2 linked regions of the Homo sapiens genome follow. The protein of the gene in region 2 interacts with the protein of the main gene of each other region in a pairwise test. Each region holds a gene or a part of one and is shown on either strand. Other genes may lie near its edges.

Region 1 (3,913 bases), on a different chromosome or scaffold from region 2:
GGAGATTCTTGCCGATTCAAGAACAAATGTAAGGACTGTATGGCTTATGGCTATCATTTTCAAACTCTGGAAGACCTAACCAGTCTGCAAATTGACTCTGACACCTTTTCTATACAATACTAATAACTATCTTCTCTGTAACATGTTGTAGTTGACTAAGCTATGTCTTAATGATGTACATGCCAAAGTTGGAACCATACTATCAACATAGTGTTGAGCTGGAAGGATCGGAGCTGCTATCCTAAGTCCCTAGCTCCCTCTTGGGATCAAGAAACCTTACCCATTCCCAGTGCACGGGAAATAGCTCACCAACCTACCCCATAGGTTTGCTCTATCTACTCGGAGCAGAGATGTCTCTCACAAAAAAACACTGGGAAGTTTCATAATTTTCAAATTATGGTGTCCCAGGTCACTCCCTCCCTTATAAGCATGGCTGCCTATGCAGTTAAAAGGAATATGAAATCCAACAGGAAGAGTTCAAATCTCATCAAAGCTTTTTATTTTTACCAACCCCAATCCCAAGACTCTCTGGTGTCTAGTGCCACAGTGGTCTCCAAGACACACTTCCCTCACCTTTTTCTTCAAGTTCTTTTCCAATCCGACTGACAAGCTTCGACTCAATTCTTGGGCGAAGCCGTCTAACCCTTCATGAGGCGGGGAGGTGGAGGGTAAATACAGCTGGGCTCGGGCCGTGGCCTCCGCCTGCCGGCTGAGGCGCAAAGAAGCATAGAGCTGGGAGGTCACTTCAGACGACACTTGGTTGAGCCCAGGGGGTTCTGATGAATCACTCAGGAGATCCTCCGCCCCGAGGGGTGAACTGGGGCTGTCAGCTGATGTTGCCATGAATACAGGGAAGAGACAACCGGAGACAGCAAAGAGCTGGGAGGTTCTGCTTTAGCAAAGTCCAGGAGGAAAAGTTCACGGAGAAAGACTTGGGAGAAGGGAGGAAGACTCCACGCCAAGGATCCTTGGTGAATTAAGGATATCGAGGCTTTCTGGTTAGAGGAAAGGTTTCCACCAGTTCCAGGGGCCATGGGAGTGGGCAAAAGCATCCCTTTCCCCAGCTCCTGGGAACAGCGTTAAGAGGGTGCAGCGCAGAGCGGGTGCGGACAGAAGACCTACTGTGGGACAACAGCGCTGCTGAAGCTCCTCTTCCCGACTACGAGTGCTGGAAGCTGCAGATCAACTCCGGCACAGGCTATCCCCGGTCAACTGAGCTCTTAAGTTCTCACACCCAAAACGTCCCAACGGAAACGGACCCAAATCCACTAGGAGCCCAATTTCTGTCCCCCTGCCCTACTAGTCCCTCAATTGGTTCCAGTCTCAAGAGAGGGCGGAACCTCACGCTCCCCCATCCCTTCACCCGTTCTACCCAGGGTCAGCTCCAGCTCCCTTGTACTTTCCCTTCGACCCCTCCTGGCAAGAAAGCCATAGCGAGCTTCCTTGTTCCCTAGAATCTCTCCCTCCCGACCACCCCAAAAGAAACCTTGTGAACCCTCAGTCACGCCCTAAGTCGTCCCTAAGAAGCACGCCGCCCTCAAGCCTAGCCCGAGATCCTCTGCCCCGACGACCACCTGGTTCCGCCTACTCTCCACCCTTCCAGTCCTCAGTCCCCAATTTGCCAAAGTGGGGGGCAAGCGATTGACCTCCTCCCCTGAGATCCCCCTCTCACGCCTCCCCCTACGCTCAAAACCGTTGGCAGCCTCCCGCCCACTGTCCACGGCTCCGCCTCTCTCGCCTCGATGACGTCACCCGCCCGCGAGACCACGCTCGCAGACACTCACATCACTTCTGTATCCCGAGCGCCTGGCCGCGCGTGCGCGGCTCCGGTGGCCACAGATTGGCTGAGGGAGGGAGGCGGAGTCTGACAAGCAGCACTGGAGCGGAGTTAATGCCCAGCCGCGGCCGAGCGAGAACCCCCCTAAGGGGCGGAGCTCCGTGGAAACCGGAAGTAACTCTTGACGGGCACTCGGAGCAGTTCCGGTGAGTCCGTGGGTGGGGTCCCCACCTGGTTGGAAGGCTGTGGGTCCGGGAACCCGAGCCCAAGGAGTGGGGGCGGCCCCGGAGCGAGGCTCACACTCCCTGCCCTGCAGATGACTGTCCACAACCTGTACCTGTTTGACCGGAATGGAGTGTGTCTGCACTACAGCGAATGGCACCGCAAGAAGCAAGCAGGGATTCCCAAGGAGGAGGTGACGAGAGGGCCCCGGTGCAGCCCGGGCGACCTCTCATCTCCAAACACCTATAGTCCCAACCCAGCCCCTCCTCTCCAAACCCCAGCTCGTTCCCACCCCCCACCCCATCTCCCGCATCAACCGAGAGCTAACTCTGCCCCTCTCCCTCCAGGAGTATAAGCTGATGTACGGGATGCTCTTCTCTATCCGCTCGTTTGTCAGCAAGATGTCCCCGCTAGACATGTACGCGGAGTCAGAGAAGATGTTGGGAGGAGGGCTAGCCTTGGGAATTTGGGGATGGGGGAAACTTTCTGAAGTGGAAGGAGCATTGGCCTCCAGAGGGGGGAAAGGGTACTTAAGAGAGGCTGAGTCCGGAGCGAGAGTGCTGGAGCTGGCAGGAGTGGGGGTGGGGAGGGTCTGAAAGTAGAGAAGTTGGTGGGGGCTAAATTGAGGGGTGACGATGGGCGATGTCTTTACTCAACCAGGCTTCTACAAAGGATATGTTTAGATAAAGAGGGAGTCGATGTTTGCGGGGATCAGAAGTGTCTCTTTGGGAGAGATTCTGCTCCCATTCTTTAACACCCTCCTCATCTCTGCAGGAAGGATGGCTTCCTGGCCTTCCAAACTAGCCGTTACAAACTCCATTACTACGAGACGCCCACTGGGATCAAAGTTGTCATGAATACTGACTTGGGCGTGGGACCCATCCGAGATGTGCTGCACCACATCTACAGTGCGGTCAGTGCCAGCCCCAGGGACCCATCCCCCAGAGCTCTTCAGAACCCCAAGACTCCCTCATCTCCCCTGCCCCAATCCTACTATATGTTTGCTCAACTCAAGAGTTTTCTCAGGGGCCCTTAGGTTCTTAACTCCCACCACCACTTTCTCCTCAGAGAGGGCTTGCCTTCCAGCCCTTATTCCTTGTGCATTCACACACCCCTGAGGTTATACAAGGTTTGGGGCTAAAAACCAGAAGTATCCAAAGCCTGGCTCTAACATCTTCCCTTTCCATAGCTGTATGTGGAGCTGGTGGTGAAGAATCCCCTGTGCCCGCTGGGCCAAACTGTGCAAAGTGAGCTCTTTCGCTCCCGACTGGACTCCTATGTTCGCTCTCTGCCCTTCTTCTCCGCCCGGGCTGGCTGAAGCAACCTACCTCAAGTCTCAGGAGAATTCATGTCTGCCTGGGGCCCTTCCGAACCTGTGCCAACTAAGGGCCCCCACTGTAAGCCCCCGCACCCCCACCCCCTGCCCAGAGCAACAGCCTAAAGGCCTGCCCTGATGCTCTCCTCCTACCAGAGTGAAGCCCACAGAGTCCCTCCACCTCCACACCAGGCCCTCTCTCCAGTTTTATCCCCTGCCTAATGCTGCGAGAAGCACAGAATAAACTTTTTGTCACTCTCTGCGGCCTGAGCGTGTTGGTTTGAGGGCCCTCTCAGTCCTGCCCCACGCATGAAGGTGGAAAGTAGGGCAGCCACACCCCCTGGAGGGCCACGAAGTGGCTTTGCGGATGGGTTTCTCAACCGTGGGAATATTGATGCTTTGAGCTGGATAATTCTTTATTGTGGGGACCGTCCTGTGCTTTGTAGGATTTTAGCATCCCTGGCCACCACCCACTAGATGCTGATAGCACAGGCATGAAATCAAAAATATCTCCAAACCTTGCCGAAAGTACGCTGGGAGATACATTCCCTCCCGATTGAGAATCACTGGGCCGGGGGAAGCCTGACAGCCCTTGGGTC
Region 2 (3,913 bases):
CTTTGTACAGATGGGGGAAACATTCAGGCAGATAGGAGTATTTTTACGATGAACACAAACACAGCCAGTACCTGCACCATCTTTTCTGTTTACAAAACATACATACACGCCCATGGCTTTGAGTGAGTCCCAAACACTCAAACCTGTTTTTCTGCAATCCTCTCAGAACCACAGCCTAATGGTGCTTGTAAGGATGGAGCTTTGGTTTTGTATAATGAAAACACCAATACGGTGCTTTCGAGGTCCAAATTAGATATACTCATCCTGTACAAATGCAGAGAAGTGCCAAAATGGCTATCTTATCTATGTATTTAATGGATTTGGAAGTACCTTTTGTATATGTTTTTCCAAATTATTGGTTCACCTTTGAATCCCTAGAACAGGTATCATACACTCCAGATTCTGACTGACGATGGATCAAGCTTTCTTTTCCTTACCTCTCCCTATCTACATATCAGAGTGTTTTGGCAATTATATTAATTTTCTAAAAAAGATTACAAACCTAACAGGTGGAAAAGTGGTCTTTGTTATAGTACAAATAAATATTACCTATTTGTCCTCTTCACCATGGTTTCAACCCACCACTATTGGATTTGAAATATCTTTCTTCTCTCTAAGTATTCTCTGTATGCCCCCCCTCTTTTTTTTTAAGAACCAGGAAAACATAATGGCAAGTTATTTAAGATTTAAAATGTTATGCAGCAAATAAATAGGACGCTGTTGAACCCCAAGCTCAGGTGTGAATTCAATGGATGCATTTTGGCTTTTCTTTCAATTCCGTGAGCTGAACAAATCATGCTTGGAAAGAATGAGAAGAATCTGCCAATAACACATTCAATCATCATGATAAAAACATGCAAACCAAAAAGATAGTCTTCATTTGGGTCTAGATAGCAATTAGAGTTATAGGAGGACTCCTCTCCATCAGAAGCGTAGATCGCCTCACTCAGGGGAAAGTCCCAGGTCAGATATTTTAACTTTTTATTTCATCTTGGCCATCTTCACACCCAGTAAACCCCTCTGTCTGATGTGAGGCAAGCCCAAAGCCATGCCATGTAAATACCGCTCTCTACCTGGAACTCTCCTAGTGTCCTACCTTTCTAGCTTGTTCTGAAAGTCTTCTATTTGTAAACCAATGCTCTGACAATAGGGTGTGGTGAGCGATTATATGTTATTAGTTTTTCATATTCGATCGTGAATTAAGAGCTAATTAACTAGGAGCAAATCCGTAACTTAACATGACGTCAACTGGATTGGTCAGCACAGAAGGTTTAGTTCAGGTTGGGTTCCCATCTTGGGGAATGGCCGAAGGTGGAGGACCACCTGAACACATAGGAGGGCCCTTAGTGTATGCGGGCATCATGCTGGAAGGGAGAGAAAAAGAAGTAGAGAAAACACAAATGGGCAAATGAAAGAGATTGGTTAAGACCCAGCCTTGCTTATCCTCAACATTTGAAAATGGCTGGTGAAACTAATCTGCCAAAGCATTTGACCTTGGTCTCTGCCCTGTTTCCTAAAAATGACACAAATGGTCTGGGCATGGTTGACTATATAAGGCATGGAACTTCTATGACACATGATGCACATTATCTTCAAGCTATGGGACTCCATGCACATTAACATAAGTGTACAGAAAGCCATTTGTTTCTTTATGTGAAATGAAACCTCAAGGGCACACATTGCCTCTATCTTTGTTAAAGGTGGGCTCTAATACTGGTCTATCCACAAGAAAACCAAAAGATGAAAGAAGAAAATAAGCTTCTTTTCATCTCAATGTTCTGCAAAGAAGAATATTTTTCTACCAACCTGTTAAGGGCACATGCTCATTCATAGGACACTTAATGTAGAAAATAACCAAAGGGAAGAGGTGGAAGGTGGCAATTACTAAAAGTAAGCTGCAAAAAAGCATTCATTACAAGTAACAATCATAAAGACAACTTTAAGCTATTCATGAGCTGATTAAGGAATCTCTATATAGTAACTACTTCTAGCACTCTCCAATCTTTCTTCCATTGCTCAACTTTTTGTCACTTTATAAGTCATTGGCATTGCTATGGAAAGGTGGGGTGGTGAAATGGAATGGTGACAGAAGTTAGTATCTAATAATTAAAATGAAAGATAGCCTTGGCTGGACACTGGAGCTTGCCTTGGGTAATTCAGGATTATGGATGATGAAGGCCTAAAAAAAGCAGTAGTAATCTGTGAACTTTATCTCTCTAAACCCGTTTTATTCTAGTTCCCAGCTCTAAACTAGAGGACTTAAGAGAATGATTAGGACTTAGTTTTCATGTTCTGGTCTTTCATTAAAATAAATCCTACTCCAGCAAGCTACTATCCTGCTTGGCATTGGGAGATGCTAGCTGCCTCTAAGCAGACCCATCTCCCTGTAAGAAAGCTCCTCACCAGGCTAATCGCAATGCCTCAGAGCAAACCCATACCTGCAGAGCTATTCTTCATCCACGTCTGTTACAAACTGTGAATGGTGTTCGGGTGACTTGCTGTGCGTTTTGCTTAGGTGGAGTTTTACCGCATGTTTGCTCACAAATGTCCGACAGCACAACTTACACTTGAATTTAGAGTCTGTGTCCTCTTCGGCAGCTATTGTTTCTGGAGACCTCTGAGCCGACGATACCCGGGAGATCTCTTGCTCCACCTTGCTTTGCTGGTCCACTGACAAGCGGGTCATGTCCTTCATTTGGAAACCCAGGTGAGATTCTAAGTGACTGATGTAGGTAGAAGGGGTTCTGAACTGGGAGGCACAGTCACTGCAATAAAAGATGGGGTGGCCTTTGTCCATGTTTTTCAGAAATTTTGTCCCGCCCGTTTTCCTAAGCTGGTACTTGACGTTGGCCAGCCAGTGACTGATAGTGGTCATTGAGAGTCCCGTAAACTTAGAGATTTGCATACGCTCTTGTGGGCCCAGATCAGACAGCAGGTATTTGCCCTCTGATGTCTGGAAGAGGCTCGAGGCAAACTGGGCTTGTAGAATCAGAAGATGCTGAGGATTCCAGTTGGACTGCCGGCCTTTTCTTTTATGCAAAGTTGAGACTTCACTGGAGACATCCTCAAAGCGCCTGACATCCATTTCCAGCTTCATGGGGGGGACCCTGGAGGAGGAGGCTGGCTTTGGGGTGGTGGCTTTGGGGAGGACTTTGACCATGTCGGCGATGTCAGACAGAGCGTGCTTCTGAGGTGGGGACATACAAGATTGTGCTTGCGAGGACTCGGCTTTCTTGCTTTTGGACTTGGTCAGGTCAATGGGCTGATCGCTGTTCTCAAACAGGTAGCGCCTGGACACGCTGGCTGACCTTGTGGAGGCAGGACTCAAGACCGGCTTGTCCATGACATTGAGATTCGACTTGTGGAACATGGAAATTGTGCTTGAACTTGGGCTGGAGCAGGAAGGTGAGCGCAAGGGCTCCGTGGCTTTGCCCAAGTGATTGTTCAGGACGGACTGCAGGGCGCTGAGTGGGTTGATGCATGGCAGGGCCGGGGCGTGGTTGGCGAGGGCGCACCCATTGCTCAGAGCAGATGTGGGCTCCAGGGGCTGGGGTTTCTCCTTCTCGCTGCCCTCTTTCATCAGCTTCTCCTCCTCCTTCAGGGGACCCAGCTCGGTCTTTTTGGCTTCTGGAGGTGTTTCACTTTTGCGGAAAGAATCGCCCTCACTGTGGCTGAAAGATGAGGCCTCTTCGTGGGGACTTTCTTTCCCACACTCCTTCACCGCTTCATCTTTGTCTTCTGACTCTTTCTTGACTTGAGTGTAAGGGGCCAGGTGTGTGGGCATAGAAACCAGTGGCATCACTTTCCACTTTGGTGCAATGGGCCTCAGCTTGTTGGTGAGATTAGGCCGGATCTGCAGTACCTGGGATCCCATAGGCAAAGGCGGCTTGGTGCCCTCAGACAGCTGGTAGGC

What was found.
Region 1: the proteins of TSHZ2 (region 2) and CNTROB interact in binary tests that used the Homo sapiens proteins (3 or more experiments, as listed by UniProt).

Annotation. Positions count from the first base shown.
Region 1 is NC_000017.11:7,930,010-7,933,922, reverse strand, and holds the start of CNTROB (centrobin), read right to left. Parts: upstream 1,718-3,913; 5' UTR 844-1,717; coding exon 574-843; intron 1-573. Other genes in the region: TRAPPC1 (trafficking protein particle complex subunit 1), read left to right, coding at 2,094-2,192, 2,347-2,417, 2,774-2,912, 3,189-3,317. UniProt on the Homo sapiens protein: Required for centriole duplication. Inhibition of centriole duplication leading to defects in cytokinesis.
Region 2 is NC_000020.11:53,255,097-53,259,009, reverse strand, and holds part of TSHZ2 (teashirt homolog 2), read right to left. Parts: coding exon 2,447-3,913; 3' UTR 2,439-2,446; intron 1-2,438. UniProt on the Homo sapiens protein: Probable transcriptional regulator involved in developmental processes. May act as a transcriptional repressor.